Linked DNA regions of Homo sapiens: region 2 is linked to region 1. The links come from fine-mapping of genetic effects on gene expression. A gene starts in region 1. The other region holds a variant in brackets. All regions are shown on one strand. Distances are between the middles of the regions. Region 1 holds the start of PHGDH (phosphoglycerate dehydrogenase). Region 2 overlaps LOC124904390 (a long non-coding RNA gene).

What was found. PIP is the estimated chance that this variant, and not a neighbour inherited with it, causes the effect.
Region 2: its variant is fine-mapped to the expression of PHGDH in esophagus mucosa (GTEx, PIP 0.95).

The regions. Positions count from the first base shown.
Region 1 is chr1:119,708,073-119,716,408 of GRCh38, reverse strand. PHGDH (phosphoglycerate dehydrogenase) reads right to left here and starts at 4,475. Exons shown (of 12, transcript NM_006623.4): 1 at 4,249-4,475. The coding sequence starts at 4,386. It overlaps LOC105378937 (a long non-coding RNA gene), which reads left to right and starts at 4,563. Exons shown (of 3, transcript XR_947757.4): 1 at 4,563-4,675. RefSeq lists a silencer at 3,823-3,922 and enhancers at 4,063-4,152, 4,203-4,482, 4,623-4,672, 4,154-4,683.
Region 2 is chr1:119,671,101-119,679,436 of GRCh38, reverse strand. It overlaps LOC124904390 (a long non-coding RNA gene), which reads right to left. Exons shown (of 2, transcript XR_007066508.1): 2 at 7,923-8,336. Among named protein-coding and RNA genes, the nearest start is that of ZNF697, 27 kb to the right of the region's middle. RefSeq lists enhancers at 1-202, 3,310-3,811. The variant G/A (reference allele first, on the strand shown) is at 5,089.

The DNA of each region.
Region 1 (8,336 bases):
CACAGAAACAGCACTATTGTTTCTTTCATGAGCATGGACTCTCTGGATGGATCTCCCTTGTAAAGATTTATGCTGTAGTCTCTTCACTTTTCCCTCAAACCAGCCTTCTTTGGTGCCAGGGAAACTAAGAGTCCCCAGTCAGACTCCTACAGATGAGCATCAGGTCTCACCTCTCCCAAGGGCAGAAACTGTCACTCAGGAGACCTTGGTCCCACATTAGAACCAGACATCCCACATCAGTCAGAGTTAATGAGCTTCCAAGGCCTCTTACAACCTCAACTACCCACTCTATCCACTCATTCAATCAGCACATATTCACAGACAGCCTGAATCCAACCTACCTCCTGCTGGACCCTCAAAGCCCCTGCACCCAAGCCCCTTCCCTCCTCACGCCACAACGCACCCCCTTCAAAGACTTTGCCCCAAGCTGTCTGCTCCTGTCCTCTACTTATGGAAACCACAGCCCTAACCAAATGCACCCATCTGCTCACATCCTCTGCAGTTTGCGATTAAAACTTCTCCAGTGTCCAGAGATCCTCCCCTCTCTTTGTCATTCCTTGGGTGAGGAAGCAAGTCTCTCTCTACACAGCACCAAATTCTGATGTTCACTGCCCTCTGCGTGTGGCTTCTGTGTCTGCACTGTGGCGGGAACAGGCACTTCCCACACTTCCTACAAGTCCTCCCGCTCCCCTGTCCTTAGCTGCTGTTCAGCTAGAAAACTGCTTGATTTATGGCTGTTCGAGACAAACTGCTAACTCAGCAATGGGAATCCATTGCCATTCCTCAGGTTCACACATGCTTCCTTTCCCAAGGGGACAAGCTTGGCCTAGGAGGTAATTCTAGCATTGCCATGCCTCTGACTTAAATCATAGGGCAAGACAATGAAACTATCCAGGTCATGTTCCCCAGCTATAGGGAAGGCAGGTCTACCCTGTTTTGCACAAGATGTGTGATCCTGATTAATTTGATGGTTATTTAACTTTTGCAAACTAAATCCTTGTGTAAAGGCTGGGAACTTCCTATTTTAAAGAAATTTGAAAAGAAATTTGGCATGGAAAGATTTATTCCCTTCTTAATCTTTCTTCAAGTACTGATATGAAGGTATGGATGTGCTTCAGTAAATTAAATACCATTACCAGTGTTTAGTTTAGTGGTCCTGACCAGCAATGCTACTTAATGAAACAGAAGAAAATACCAGAATGCATCATATGTAAAAAGAGTAAGTATTATTTCATAAAATTTGTGTGTGTCTGTGTGTACACATATGTATGAGTGTTTAAGTTATGACATAAAACAAATTTCTTATTGTGGGTCACAGTCAAAGTTTAAAAGCCACTGATACATGGTAATATTATTTAAATATTTTCCGGCATATTAGGTATATTTAAGATGTGAGTTCCAAACAAGATGCTTTATTATTTTAAGCCAACGTTTTCCAAACTTTTTTGACTGAGGTTCATTGTAAGAAACACATCTTTGTTGGTGGAGGGGTGGGACAGGGTCTAGCTCTGTTGCCCAGGCTGGATTGCAGTGGCGAGATCATGGCTTACTGCAGCCTCAAACTCCTAGGCTCAAGCGATCCTCCCACTAGAGCACCAGGTTGGGAAGAGTGACAGCAACCAGGGCCTCAGCCCTCCACCCCATCCCCCAGTAGCTGAGACTACAGGCTTGTGCAAGATGCTTAGCTAATGTTCGTATTTTTTGTAGAGACAGGGTTTTGCCATGTTGCCCAGTCTGGTCTCAACCTCCTCAGTTCAAATGATCTGCCTCCTTTGGCCCCTCCCAAAGTGTTGGGATTACAGGCGTGAGCCACCGCGCCCGGCCAAGAAACACATTTTTAAGTTGTAATTTCATACTCACATGCCACACACATACAACTACACAACATAAATGAAACAAAATTCATGAAACAATACTTACAACCTTACTATCTATCTGCATTGCTGTCTGATATTTCCTACTTTGTTTTTTAAAATGCTCGTCATGACCCCTTAAACTGAACTATGACTTGCTCCAAGTCTGAAAAGCACCACTGAAAGGGCAGGGAGGAATGATTGTACTTCCTGACCAGGGGGTGAGTGAGAGGAGACCGCCTGCCCAGAATACAAGGCAGTGGGAACCAAGGCCAGGCCCGGTTCTAGCAACGCTGCCGAAGCTTCCTTCAGCATTAAAGAGACTTCAGTGGGGGAGGGCAGGAGACACTATGCCAGACACCTCTTCATGCAGAATAAAAAGGCATAGTGTAGAAATGAGGACCCTTCAGTGGGCTGACCAAGGAGATTAATTGGCATTCTGAACCAAATGTGTTGCAAAGACAGACAAGAAAGCTGAGCCCTCCCAAACAGTCCAAAAATGCCCAGCAGTCAAGTTAGCCAACAAACACTCCTCCTCTCCTGCCAAGAGTTTTCAGCGCCTTTAAAATGTTCTCCAAGTTTCAGCACCAGACTCCCAGCATCCACCCAGCTGATTCCTGACTTCATGGAACAACCCCTCATTATGGATGAGGCCTCCCATTCCTCTCAATTCTGCCCTCATCCCTCCCTATCCCCACCCCCTCACTGGGGTATCAGGTTTCTAATTTCCTTTAGAGAGGTGAAAGCACTTGATTGCCACCCTCTTCCCAACCTGGTGCTCTGGTGGAGGTGAGAGTCAGAGGCTGTTCTGCAGGACACCCCACTGCCTTTCCTGGTTGTTCCCCAGAGCCACTGATACAATTTCACACAAGAAAGGAGGTGACAGATGTGAGGAGCCTGCCACCCGTCCAATCCTACTCAAGTCCTAAGCCCTTGCCCACCAATTCTGTGCATGATGATTGGACCTTTCTCTGGCTTTTCCAGAAGGGGAACACGCAAAGGTTAGGGAGCTGGATGGTCTAATTCGGGGCTATGCTCTTGTGTCATCTGCTCAACTGTCTCCTGCGTATTAGCCATGCTCCCTAACCAGCTTACAAACTTCTTGAAGGCAGGGACCAAATTCTTCTGAGTACAGGGCAGAGCTGGATACTTGGATATAGTGTCATGCCATGGTGACAAGATCCACGCCAGCAGATACAAAGGCAGACAAAGTGAGCGAGGCAGTTTCCAGGACCACGTGGTTGTGGCACAACTAAAGCAACAACAGCAGCCTCTGCGGTCTAAGGGGTCCTCGGAGGAGGAGACGGCTGAAGGTGGTGGACAGGGCTGAGGCGGGCAGAAGGCGGTTGTGCGATTTGGAGGGTGGGGGAGAATATACTGGATCAGGTGAGGTAGAGACTGGGCAGCTGGGTCGACTACAGAGGTCGAAAGTGCAGGCACTGGAGTGAAGAGTTCACAAAATAAATATTCCGGACAAGGCCACCAGGCCCAGCAGGCCTTTTCAAACACGGTGGATAAAGATTTGAAGTAGATTAATTATATATCACAACAAAAGGAGATAAAAATTTGCTAAGACTATAAATCATCTGGGAGCGTTTGGGATCGGATTCTAGTCGAGTCTGGTCACTCCCAACCAGCGATAAACCAAAGGTGGGGAGGAGGCTAAATCTGGACCCCAGCGCTCCCCGCCCGCCTCCCTTTCCTCCGAAGGCTCCCAGGAGGCAGAGGGGCGGCGAAAGCACGGAGCAGTCTTGCATCAGACGAGGGGCGGGTACGTGTTTGCTGCCTTACGAGGGCTGCCTTCCCCTCCAGCTGCCCCAGCAGCCACCAGACTGGTTGGGTCTCCGCCAGCTTCCCCCCGCCCCCCGACCCCCCCAACCCCGCCACCGCCAAGGCAGGCTAGAATCGGCGGGGCGGCCCAGAACTTGGTTGGGAAGAATCGCCAGTCCCTGGGTTCCCCGCAAAGAAGCCACTTTGGGGCCCCTCTCCCGATCGCCCCGCGCGGAGGCGGTTGGGGGTTGGGGGAGAGGCGGCGCGAGGCTGCCAGAACAATTGCGCGCTAAGGCGCTGGGGCGCCGCGCTGGCATCCCGCGCTGGCATCCGCGAGCAGCCTGCAGGACCAGTTGGAGCAGCCCGCACTTTGCAATGCTAGCGGAGGCATGCCAACGTGAAAGACGCGGTTGCAAACTAAAAGAAAAGTTTGCATCTCGCCGCCGTTTGTTCTTCCCTCTTTCTGCCTCCTCCCGCCCCCGTTCTTCTCTACCCCCCAATCTCAGGAGGCCCCGGAACTAATTGATACGGGGTGCATGCGAGGGGGGCGCGCTGGCCTGGGCGCAGCCAGCCTTTTTCCATGGAGGTTGCCCTAGAGACCTCAATTTTCTCTCTCTCGCCTTACCTGCAGCTCCGCTATCAGCTCCTCTTTGCTAAGGTTCTGCTTTTCCACCACCTGCAGCCCTCCATCTTGCAAGATCTTCCGGCAGCAAGGGTCCAGGCTGTCACTGATGAGCACTTTCCGCAGATTTGCAAAAGCCATTGCTGGAGTTGGCCTCGGAATCGGCCGCTGTGAGTAGAAGTACCTAAGCCAAGAAGCTGCGGTTCGGCCTGGCGCGCTAGAGTAACTGGGCAGTATTCTCCAGCTCCCGCTCCCCAGTCATCTCCTCCTCCTCCTCCTCTTACAGTCTCCTTTTGATTGGACGGAAATACTCAAACTCTCCGCGACTCCGCCTCCTCCTCGCGGCTCTGAGGTTGCCAAATCCCTGCCCGCTTTATTATCCTCCCGCGATGAATTTCTCCATCTCAGCCAAAGCTCTTACCTACACCTGGTGAGCATATAAAAAGCACAATTTACGCTGACTAGCTGATGCATATCTGAAATGAACGGAGAAATACACCTCATCCTGAGAGAAAAACTTCATTTTCACTTTTCCTCCTAAGGATTCATTTATTAATTCCTTACGAAATTTTTTTTGAGTGGGTAAATGTGCAAGGCACTGTGCTAGACGTTGAAGGGAATTCGACTATCAAAAAGAAAATGTCCAACAATGATAGACTGGATTAAGAAAATATGGCACATATACACCATGGAATACTATGCAGCCATAAAAAATGATGAGTTCATGTCCTTTGTAGGGACATGGATGAAATTGGAAATCATCATTCTCAGTAAACTATCGCAAGAACAAAAAACCAAACACCGCATATTCTCACTCATAGGTGGGAATTGAACAATGAGAACACATGGACACAGGAAGGGGAACATCACACTCTGGGGACTGTTGTGGGGTGGGGGGAGGGGGGGAGGGATAGCATTAGGAGATATACCTAATGCTAAATGACGAGTTAATGGGTGCAGCACACCAGCATGGCACATGTATACATATGTAACTAACCTGCGCATTGTGCACATGTACCCTAAAACTTAAAGTATAAAAAAAAAAAAGATACATCCTCTTTCCTCTGGTGGCCTAACATCCTAGAGTACCAAACACACAGACTTGGAAAGTTACGTAGTGAAAAGCAATAGGAAGCTTTCTGAGACACCAAGGAGCTGTGATTAATTTCAAATTAGTGATGCAATGAGAATTATGAGTTTATAAAAGAGCGGGGACCTGGTGCATTTAAACTAGGCATACTTTGTTAAAGTTATTTATTTCCTTTCCCTCCACTTCCTCTCTAATTATGAAAAAGAAGAAAAGGAAAACGGGATGTCAGTGTGGTTTAATTGACCAAGGAGGCACTTCTCAGCTCTTAACTCTTTTATATTTAAACCCCATAACCGACGTGCTCTCTCATGCCCCATTTTACAGAAATGTCAGAAAATTCAATTTGGGATTAAAGTCACCTAGAATCAGAAGCAGAATCAGAGATGCTCATAGTTGAATTAGAATTCAGCTTTATGGACATATCCAGTCCAACTAACCATTGTGTGTTATGTCATCCTGAGCTATTCATAACTCAAGTGCTAGATCCTTATCCTACAGAACTATGCAATATCAATTCTATAAAGTAATGAAAATTCTATACAGATAATTCCTGGGCACAAATCAGATTTTTAGACACAATGTCCTCAGTGGGTAAAAAAAAAAATTGTCTATCATGTTTGCTTGTTCGGATGAATTGTTATTCCTACATTCCAAGACTCATGAGTATTCAAATTCTCTGTCTCTCTTGAAGTGCCCAGCAGTACCCTGGAGTCTAGGGACAGACAGGGGACCTATCCCAGGAGGCTTAATGGAGGGTCTTGGGAAGCATCCATTTTTGTAACTGCTTTCCTTCAACTCCTCCCAGGGCTCACTAACTGCTTCCTTTCAGTGTAGAATCTAAACCCTGCTATCATTAACATGTAATCCCACCCTTTCACACCAAGTCAAACTTCTTGGATACTGTCTGAACGCACAACCCAGAGGGCCTCCTAAGCCTGATCACCTGTTTTCTTTATTTATTATTTATGACCCACCTACTTTTTAAACAGATCCAAGCCACACAATAAAAGACACTTCTAAACCGTTAAGAAAATAATTAACAGATTAAGAGTCCATTTCCAAGTGAAAAGGAGGGTGTGTGATAATTGTTACATAAGTCAGAAATGTTCCCTCCTTTTAAATTTCTATAGAATTAACTTCAAGTTATCTCACAGTGCCTTAAGCAATATATTTATGAACTTTTCATGTCTTGTTCCCCATGAACTCTCATTTCCTTAAATCAGAGACACGATTTTGTATACCCCCAGTAGTGCCTAGCACCATGCCTTCCACATCACAGAGGCTCAGAAGAGGTTTGATTCAAAAATTAATTTATCCAGTACCTCCTATGGGCTAGGCCCTGTGACACATAAGACACAGCCTTCTTTCCTCAAAAAGAAAAAAGAACAACATTTTAAGAAGAGTACCCCGGCATGGTGGCACATTGCTGTAGTCCTATCTACTTGGGAGGCTGAGGCAGGAGGATTGCTTGAGCCCAGGAGTTCGAGGCTGCAGTGAACCATGATTGTGCCACTGCACTCCAACCTGGGCAACAGAGTGAGACCTGTCTCTAAAAAATAATAAAAAAAATTAAAAAGGTATAGTTTAAGAATTATAAATAAAGGTGTGCTGGAGGGCTTTGGGAGCAAGGAGGAGAACCATCTCCTGAGGTGCCAGGAGGATTTCCAAGCAAGGTTGCCTTTCAGCTAACCTTTTGAAACTCATTCAAGGCAGCTACTTTGAGAGGCTCAAGGATACAGAGATAGGTAAAACATAACCTGCCTTGAAGCTGCTCATGGTTAACTGCCTAATCTTGAGAGCTGAATATGAATTAGCCGGGGGAGAAGAAATGACATTTCCAAAGGCTTAGAGTTGTGAGGAGTTGCAACATGTTCATGGCTTCTCTACCATGGCTGTGGGGGATGCCAGTGGGATACCAGGAGGTGAGACTGCAGAGGGGCCAGGGGCTGCTCATGAAGTGTCTTGCCCTGAGGAGGAGTTTAAACTTGACTCCAAAGTTAGTACAGAGGTACCGAGTGATTTTTAGAAGCGATATCATCAAATGTGTTGCTGGTCGGGCTGAGACCTGATACTGCCAATACAGATATATCCCTCACCACTACACCCCAGAATCTCCAACATCAATTGCAAACTAAGGGTTTTTCTTTGATAACTGAGGGTTGGAGTTGGGGAAATTTCTCCCTCTCCCTGTGTTATTGCATCCATCCATAAAACAGGAACTTTGGCCAGCTTGGAAGTAGTAGGAAAACAGTTCTGCCCTTCTCCTCAGACCCCTCCTTCTCTCCCTTCCTCTGGCCCCAACCCCTTCAGAAGAGAAAACCACTCTGATTAGTGAAGTTTGGGGAAAAGGTCCTAGTGCGTGCCCAGGCCAGCCCCTTTTGGCTCTCTCTTTCGAAGCTGGAAGCCTAAAATAATGTACACACTCCTGCTTCCTTGTGTGTAGTGAATCTGTCAAGGCAAGACCTACCCCTACCTAAGGTTGCAAGATGTCCAGCTGTTCCGCCTGTAACTCTGAGGATAAAGTTAATGGGGTTAAGGGGAGGAGAGTAGGAACTCTCTTTTTCTGCTTGGAGACCAGCTGTGATATCCAAACTCGAATCATAAGAAATAAAATATGTAACAAACCTGCATGTCGTGCACATGTACCCTAGAACTTAAAGTATAATAAAAAAAGAAATAAAATGATATTTTAAGATGCAGAAAATGAACTGTCATCCGTAAAACAGGCATATCTTGATTTGAATTTCAGCTTCTCAAGTTATGAACAATGTGATTTTGGGCAAATTACATTGCCCCCCTAAGACTTAGTTTTCTCCTATGTAATATGGAATGAATAGTATGATAGTGCTTACTTCATAAGGCTTTTGTAGGGATTAAATAAGGCAAAGCATACAAGTGAGTGTAATCTCTAGTGCTTGACTTTCCTTCATTCATCCACTCAATCAGTGTATATTTATTGAAACTGTAATGTGTCAGGCACTGCTGAGGGGGTTGGAAATGA
Region 2 (8,336 bases), 37 kb after region 1:
ACTAAAAAGACCAAGTGATTGGAGGGTTGGAACTTTCAGCCCCACCCTCTGACCTGTTGAGCTCTATAAACTCTTGAACAATAGATTCAGAGAGCTACTGGGTGCTGGGAGGTGACACACCCAGAGAGGCCATTGAAGCTCTGTGCCACCCTCACCCTACTCCCCCATACCTTGCCCTCTGCGTCTCTTCCATTTGGCTGTTCCTGAGTTGTATCCTTTATAATAAGTCAGTAAATGTAAGTAAACTGTTTTTCTGAGTTCTGTGAGCTCTTATATCAAATTATTGAACTTGAGGAGGGGATCTTGGGAATCCTTGATTTATAGCTGGTAGGTCAGAAGCATGGGTGGCCTGGCCCAGATGAGACTGACATTTGAAGTCAGTGCAGTCTTATAGGACTGAGCCCTTAATCTGTGTCTGCACTAACTCCAGATAGTGTCATAATTGAATTTTTGATACCTGTTACAGGTAGTTAGGCGTGAGTGGGGCAGGAGAGGGCTCTCCCCCACCCACCAGGAATGGCAGGTGACGGTTTGATGATTATCACGTTGCCTCTCTAAAAGCGATAAATTGGCAGCCAGCCTCCAGAGAGAGGCCATTTCTTGATGGTCCATACCCATTGCACTGAAGTGTTGATTGACAGCAGACACCAGAGAGGCAATTTCCCAGGCCTGCGCATTAAGAGACAAAATGGTGGAGTATGACCTTCTGGTGGCACTCCACCAGAAAAGGGAAGAAAGTCTCAGATGGGCATGCATACAACTTCCTAAACACACTGCATGTGCTCAATTCCCAAGGGTAAGGAGGGCACTGTGCATGCAGGCAACACACCCTAAGGGAAGAATCATGGAAAGGGGGCGCAAGACGCCAGAGTTTGCCAGCCTATAAAGTCCTAGGATGATGGTTAAACCAGGCACTTGACCTTCTCAGTGCCCACTTGCGTCCCTTCCGAAAGCACTTTCCTTTCCTGCTCTAAAGCTTTTTAATAAACTTCCACTCCTACAATGAAACTTGCCTCAGTCTTTTTTCTGCCTTATGCCCCTCAGTTGAATTCTTTCTTCTGAGGAGGCAAGAATTGAGGTTGCTGCAGACACATATGAATTTGCCACCGATAACCAGGATATCTTCCACTGGTAACATACCCAGTTGATGTCAGAGAATTGATGAGCATCAGAAACCACCCCAGAGAAGCTATACATGGTAAGGGCCCTAAATTCCCAAGGGAGCATAAACAGGGTGTCTTAGAGTTTTGGTTCAGTTCTACTGGAAGGCGTGATGTACTGAGAAAGAGCTTAGGGTCAACCAGCCACCTTCAAATTAAATGAGACCTACAGGCTCTGAGCAGTTGCCTTGCCCCTCACTGATACAGCAGGAGTTCTTACCTGGGGTTCAGGTATGCCTAAGGGTCTATGCACAGACTTTGGGAAATTGTTTGCTTATGAGTGCTTTTTTCTTGAGGGAAGGCTGAGTTGCTTAGATCAGATTCTCACAAGACCTTGTGACTGACAACTCTAGAAACTTTCCCACAACTGTCAGCAAGGCAAAGTTAATGGGCTAAACATTTTACATATATATAAGTATGTGTACATCGGGGTTGAATGTAGACCCCAATGTATTAAATCCCTCATAATTATAGCTTCAACACAATCCATATTCACAATATAGTATATAATACATTAGGATGTACATTCAAACCTGTTCTTTTTAAAGCCCAACTGGCAATGTGATTCACTAGCTTCAGCATGTGGTGCTTGGTTGGAATGAGCTTAATCAGTTTGATAGCATCATAGACTTTAAGTTAATGAAAACAGAAAGTTTGGAAAAAGACAACACCGTGGGGGAATGATCAGAATGCAGAGGTCGATCTAGTTTTGATGCATAAAACAAAACATGCTGCAGAGATTTGTAGCAGAAAGAGGCACAGGAAATAGCTGTATTCAGGTGACTTTCGGGTGGGAGTGGGGGCTGCTCTGGTAGATACCTTACCTAAAGAGAAGTCTTGTTCTTTTTCCTAAACAGAAACTGATTAACCTGAAACTTCGAAGAAAGAACACTCCTGACCTTGTGGTTCTTGCTGACCTAGGATCAGCAGTTGACCTTATTTAAAAATTAGCCATGTAGAAATGTGGGCAGAGGTTAGAGTCACAGTGTGTCAGAAACGTTGGGAAGAAGCTTAGAAATCTTCTTTTTTTAATTTTTTAATTTTTTTATTCTTGAGACAGAGTCTCATTCTATCACTTACACTGGAGTGCAGTGCCAAGAATATGGCTCATTGAAGCCCCAACCTTCTGGGTTAAGCAATCCTCTCACTTCAGCCTCCCAAGTAGCTGGGACCGCAGACCCACGCCACTACACTCAGCTAATTTTTTAAATTTTGTAGAGACGGGGTCTTGCTATGTTGCTCAGGCTGGTCTCCAAGTCCTGGGCTCAAGTGATCCTCCTACTTTGGCCTCCCAAGGTGCTGGGATTACAGGCATTAGCCACTACACTCAGTCCAGAGAGCCTCTTTGATGGGTTACTAATTGTTGGCCATAAACACAAGTGCTTTTTGGCCCATGGAGTGTTTCAAAAGTAATTGGAGCCAATATTGGCTCCAAACTAAGGGATTTCACAAGATAATAAAGATTTCTATTTCTTTTGAAAAGACTGAAAACATTGCAACACTGGCCTCTAGTGCCCACTTGGGACCACTCAGTGACAGCAGTCCCCCTTAGAAGGTGATGAGTTTGCAGACTATCCTGGGGCCCACTCTTAGGAGACTAGGGATTGTGTTATTGGGGAATTGAGAGGAGCAGAGCTGAAAGACAGGAAAGAGGCCGGGCGCAGTGGCTCACGCCTGTAATCCCAGCACTCTGGGAGGCCGAGGCGGGCGGATCACAAGGTCAGGAGATCAAGACCATCCTAGCTAACACAGTGAAACCCCGTCTCTACTAAAAATATAAAAAATTAGCCGGGCGTGGTGGCGGGCGCCTGTAGTCCCAGCTACTCGGGAGGCTGAGGCAGGAGAATGGTGTGAACTCGGGAGGTGGAGCTTGCAGTGAGCCGAGATCGCATCACTGCACTGCAGCCTGAGTGACAGAGCGAGACCCCGTCTCAAAAAAAAAAAAAAAAAGAAAGGCAGGAAAGAATCGCTGAGATTTTTTAAAGCAGAAAAAAAGGGGTAAAGAGGAAGTACGTAAGTTTACTTTGGGGTCTGGCCAGTGTACTTTCTGTTTTACCCAGGGAAGTGTCAAATTACATATTAGAGCCTTTGTGTACCTCATGGCACCTCATTTGGGCAGAGGGCCGAGTCCACTCCTAGCAGAAATTCAGTAGGCTCCAGGAAAATTCTACTGGGCTCCCTGTGTGTCCTTGGGGAGCCTGTTGGGAATCTCCAACGCTCTTTGGCCTGGAGTTAGTTTTATTTCTCAGTCCGGCATTGCACTCACCCTTCACAATCAGGACAGCTTATTCCTGCTTTTCAGCTCCTTCTTCCCAATGCCAATTCATACCTGACTTCAATATTCACTCCCAGCTTCTAATGGACCAATGTTTACTACTTCAACAAACAGACTCTGGTTACCTATAATGTGTCAACTGCACAAAGTGCTGGGGCATTGAAGACAAGACATGATCCTGCCGGACAGAGGCATAGTGTGACTAAAATGTTTGTGGGGAAGGCTGACCATCTGATTGGGTGATGGAAATCTGTCCACCAGATGGCGCTCAAGAGATTCCAGTGTAACAAAACAACTAGAGAAAAATTAAAAAGGGAAATTTGCCCCGTGGAAGAATAAATAGCACTATGACTTCTATTTCACGTGTACTTTTATGTTCTATTAAGCACCTAACAGTTACATTCTCCAAACCCCTGGATTCTGGGTATCATGTTCAGACAGGGAGGAACACAAGCTTCCACACCCGGCCTCCCTCCCCTTCGACCACCCGTAATCTCCGAAGACAGAGCACCGCCCCGTGAGACTAGGAAAGAACTGGCTATTGGTGAGATGTGCTCTCGGGAGGAAATTCCTCCATTTGAATGAAGGGCTGATTCTTACCTGAGTTCCCTCCCAACTGGGTGTCCTTGGGAAGGGAGGTCTCTCCTGTCCTAGATTCTGTGGCACTGCTCTCTCCCTATCTGCTCATCTTCTGTGTAATTTGATTAGAAATATTTATTTTTTTATGTGCAAGCTCTTCCAACTGTTTATAGCTTTTCACATTTTTTTCTGAATATAATAAGCTCGTTACAAGAAATGCGAATAGATTAAAAATTTAGAAAAAGTATAATTCCTCTATAATTCAACTCTTGGAGATATCCACTGTTGAAAGTTTGGTGTATATTCATCTAGAACAGGGTTTCTTAATCTCAGACCTGTTGGTATTTGCGGCCAGCAAATTCTTTGGAAAGCTGCCCTGTGGATTGTAGAATGATAAGCAGCAACCCTGGCCTCTGCCCACTAGAGGCCAGTAGTAGCCTCACCACCACCACCACCACCGCCTAGTTGTGACAACCAATAATGCATCCAGACATTGCCAAATGGTTTCATATTACACATACGTTCGGGCAACTGGCTTTTCAACTTACATTTTTGTTGTTGTTGTTGTATCTTAACAATAGATTTTGGTCATCTTTCCATTTCAGAACATCTGGACCGATTACATCCTTCAGTCTATTGTATCATGATTTATTTAACCTGGTATCTTCTATGGATGATCATTTGGATCATTTTTAATTTTCTTACTTTTACAAATGTAGCTTGGTGAAAAAAAATATTTAAAACCCAAACTGTCTGTAGCCACTTGTAAGGGAAGAAGAAAGGCATATTTCATAGCAGAGGGAAAACAAGTATCCATATTGCTTCCTTTTACTTGTAAATCTTGGTGGGTAAAAGAGAAAAGGAAGTCTGAAATGTGGAAACCTCCACCCATTTTCTGTACTGTTAAAGCTTGAGGCCAAATTAATGGTCCCTCCAGTAGTCTAGATGTTATCAAAGCTTTAGACATGCAAAGAAGGTCCAGGAATGGAGAGGGTTAGAAAGCAGAATTGTTCTGCATACCGAGAGACAAAGTAGCAAACAAACGGAAGGAGCGGTGTTTGCCTGTTTCTGCTT[G/A]CCAGGGTAATTTTACAAAGCCCCTGATTGTGAGGCCTGCAGCTCTCCAGAAAGATACTTTGACAAAACAGGATAGAGCACATCCCCCATGCCTCTTGTCTGAGTCACTATATTTCTTAAAAGTTAATTGACCCTAGCTAGCCCTTGCCTTTTCTTACACACGATAACATCTCATGGGCTTAGTCACTATGCTTCTACTACCTATAACCAAATGTGCTTTAGTAAACTGTAATCAAATGTACTCTTGCACCCAAACATAGATGTGATTTTGCATATACTTAACCTCCACCACCTACCTACCAATGGGCTGAAACACTGCTTTAGAGGAGTCCGACAGACCTCTCTGAAAGACTCCTCCTGGGCTATGGGCCTCAGTCTATAGTCCTCAGTAAGGACTGTGAATAAAACTTATTTTAATTCTTTAAAAGCTTGATTTTATTCCCCTTGGGTATTTTGACTGTCTCTAAATAGTCCATGGGAAAGCAAATCCTGAAAACACAGAACTGATAAAATGTCAGGAAATGCTTGAGGTGGAGAGAGAAGGTCAAGTGACAAGCAGGATACCAGAGCCCATGGAGAAATGTGGCCAGTGAGAAATTCTTCATGGGAAAGAGGACAAGAGGACAAAGGGCCTTTATGTATGAGAAAGTCTAATATTAATTTTTGAATGAGTCAGTTTGTGTGGTTGTAAAAAATCCACATTCAGATGGCTTGGGAGGTGTTTTTGTTGTTCTGCTTTGTCTTGTTTTATCTTGAAAAGATAGGTAAGGAAAGGGTATTGAATTTCACATGTACATTGGTTCAAGTCAAAAAGACAAGACAGGCTAAAAGAGGTGAGATGCAAGTGGGCTTGAGACAGAACCAGAGCTCTGAGCAAGATAGAAAGAACTGTGAGAAAATAAAACTGCCATAACTCACAGAAATCACAGGGAGGGCAATGTACATCTGACAGGGTTAGGATTCCCAGGTGAACTTCATTTAAATCTCAAGGCATAGGGTGACTGTTGGCTACTGACTCACGCAAATGGCACCGCTATGACATCCTTCCTGAACGTACACCTTTAAGTTTTTGTACAACTTTTTTTTAAATTCATAAGTATGTATTGACTTTCTACCATCCGCAAATGTAGCAATGAGAAAGCTAGTCAATTGTCTGAGATCCATAAAGATGATGTTTGCATTCTTTTAGTTAAATTGCCGAGTCAAAAAACATGATAACTTAAAAATTTGGAAAGCCATTTCGAAATGTTCTTTCTTATCTGGAGATTTGATTTTCATCCAGGCGTTGCTTTTATATTTTATATTTACTAATGGTGTGATGTGTTTCTCTATATTTAATTCTTATCCATTAAAATTGTATATTGATGTATCATGTGAATCCCTTAATTGATTTTTCCCCAAAACATCCAACTAGTTTTTTAGAGCCACAATTTATCCAGTAGTTCAACCTTCCACCACTGATTTGTAGCGCTTCCCTCATGATATTTTAACTTCTCTGTTTTAGTATCTGCTTCTGAGCTATTCTTTTTATTTCATTGATTTGCCTATCTTTTCTTATGCCAGAACCACAATTATTGTTTTAGCTATTATAGCTTTATGACTAAAGCAAGTACTTCCTCTTTCAGGAATAAGACAAGAATGTCTGCTCTCACCACTTCTATTCAGTAGTGTGCTGGAAGGGCAAGTAGGCAAGAAAATAAAACAAAATGCATCCAGATCGGAAAGGAAAAAGTAAAACTAACTCTTTCTATTTGCAGATGACATGATCTTGCATATAGAAAATACTAAGAAATTTACTTAAACTATTAGAACTAATAAATGAGTTCAGAAAAATTGTAAGATTTAAGATTAATAAACAAAGTGGTCCAGGTATATTAGCTTGTGCCTGTAATCCCAGAGCTTTGGAAGGCCAAGGCAGGATGATCTCTTGAGGCCACAAATTTGAGAGCAGCCTGGGCAACATAGCGAGCTTATGTCTCTTAAAAAAAAAAGGAAAGAAATAAAAATAAAAAGATTAACACACAAAATGAATTGTACTTCTACATGCTTTATTAAAAATCTGAAGAAATTAGAAAATAATTCCAGTGACAGCAGCATCAAGAAAATAGGAATTATAAAATAGAAATAGGAATAAATTTAGTAAGACAAAAGTAAGTCATTTTTGTTTGTTTGTTTTTTATTGTTGTTGTTTTAGAGACAGAGTCTCTCTCTGTCACCCAGGCTGGAGCACAGTGGCATGATCATAAATCACTGTAGCCTTGAACTGTGGGGCTCAAGTGATCCTCCAGCCCCAGCCTCCCAAAGTAGGGTAAATCTTGTACTCTAAAAATTAGAAAACATTGTTGAAAGAACTTAAAGAAGATCCAAATAAATGGAAAGACATACATGCTCATGGATCAGAAGACTAGATACTGTTAAGATGACAATTCTCCCTAAATTGATGTACAGATCCAACACAATCCCTAAAAATCCCAGCTGGCTTGTATGCAAAAATTGAGAAACTAAACACAAAATTCATGTACAAATGTGAGGCATCCAGAATAGCCAAAATAATCTTGAAAAAAAGGAAAAAGTTATAGGATCCCCACTTCCTGATTTTAAAATGTACTACAGAACTATAGTAATTAAGACAGTGTGGTGCTGGCATAAAGATAGACTTATAAATCAATAGTTCAGAATCGAGAATCCAGATATAACCCCTTATAATTATGGTCAATTGATTTTCAATAAGGGAGTCAAGACAATTCAATGAGAGAAAGAATAATCTTTTCAAAAATTGATGCTGGAACTGCTGGGTACCTACGTGTAAAAGAACAAAGTTGGACCCTTCCTCATACCATTTATAAAAATTTATTAAAACGGACCAGAGATCTAAATTTAAGAGCTAAAACTATAAAACTCTTAGGAGAAAATATAGGAGTAAATCTTTGTGACTTTGGTGTAGGCAAACCCTTCTTACATACAACACTCAAGATATAAGCAACAACAACAATAAAAATAAATTAGACTTCTTTAAATAAAAAATTTTGTGTTTCAAAGAATATCATCAAGAAAGTAAAAAGATAGCTTAGGTAATGGGAGAAAATATTTACAAATCATAGTTTGTAAGGGATGGTAGTGAATTATTGTCATTTTATGTTGTCTCGGCATCCATTTTAAATACTAGTTGGGCTTTTTTGTACCAGGTGGCTCTCAATTCCTATTGGTGTGCTGCCCTCCTCCCTCTAGGACCTGTGAGTAATACGCTG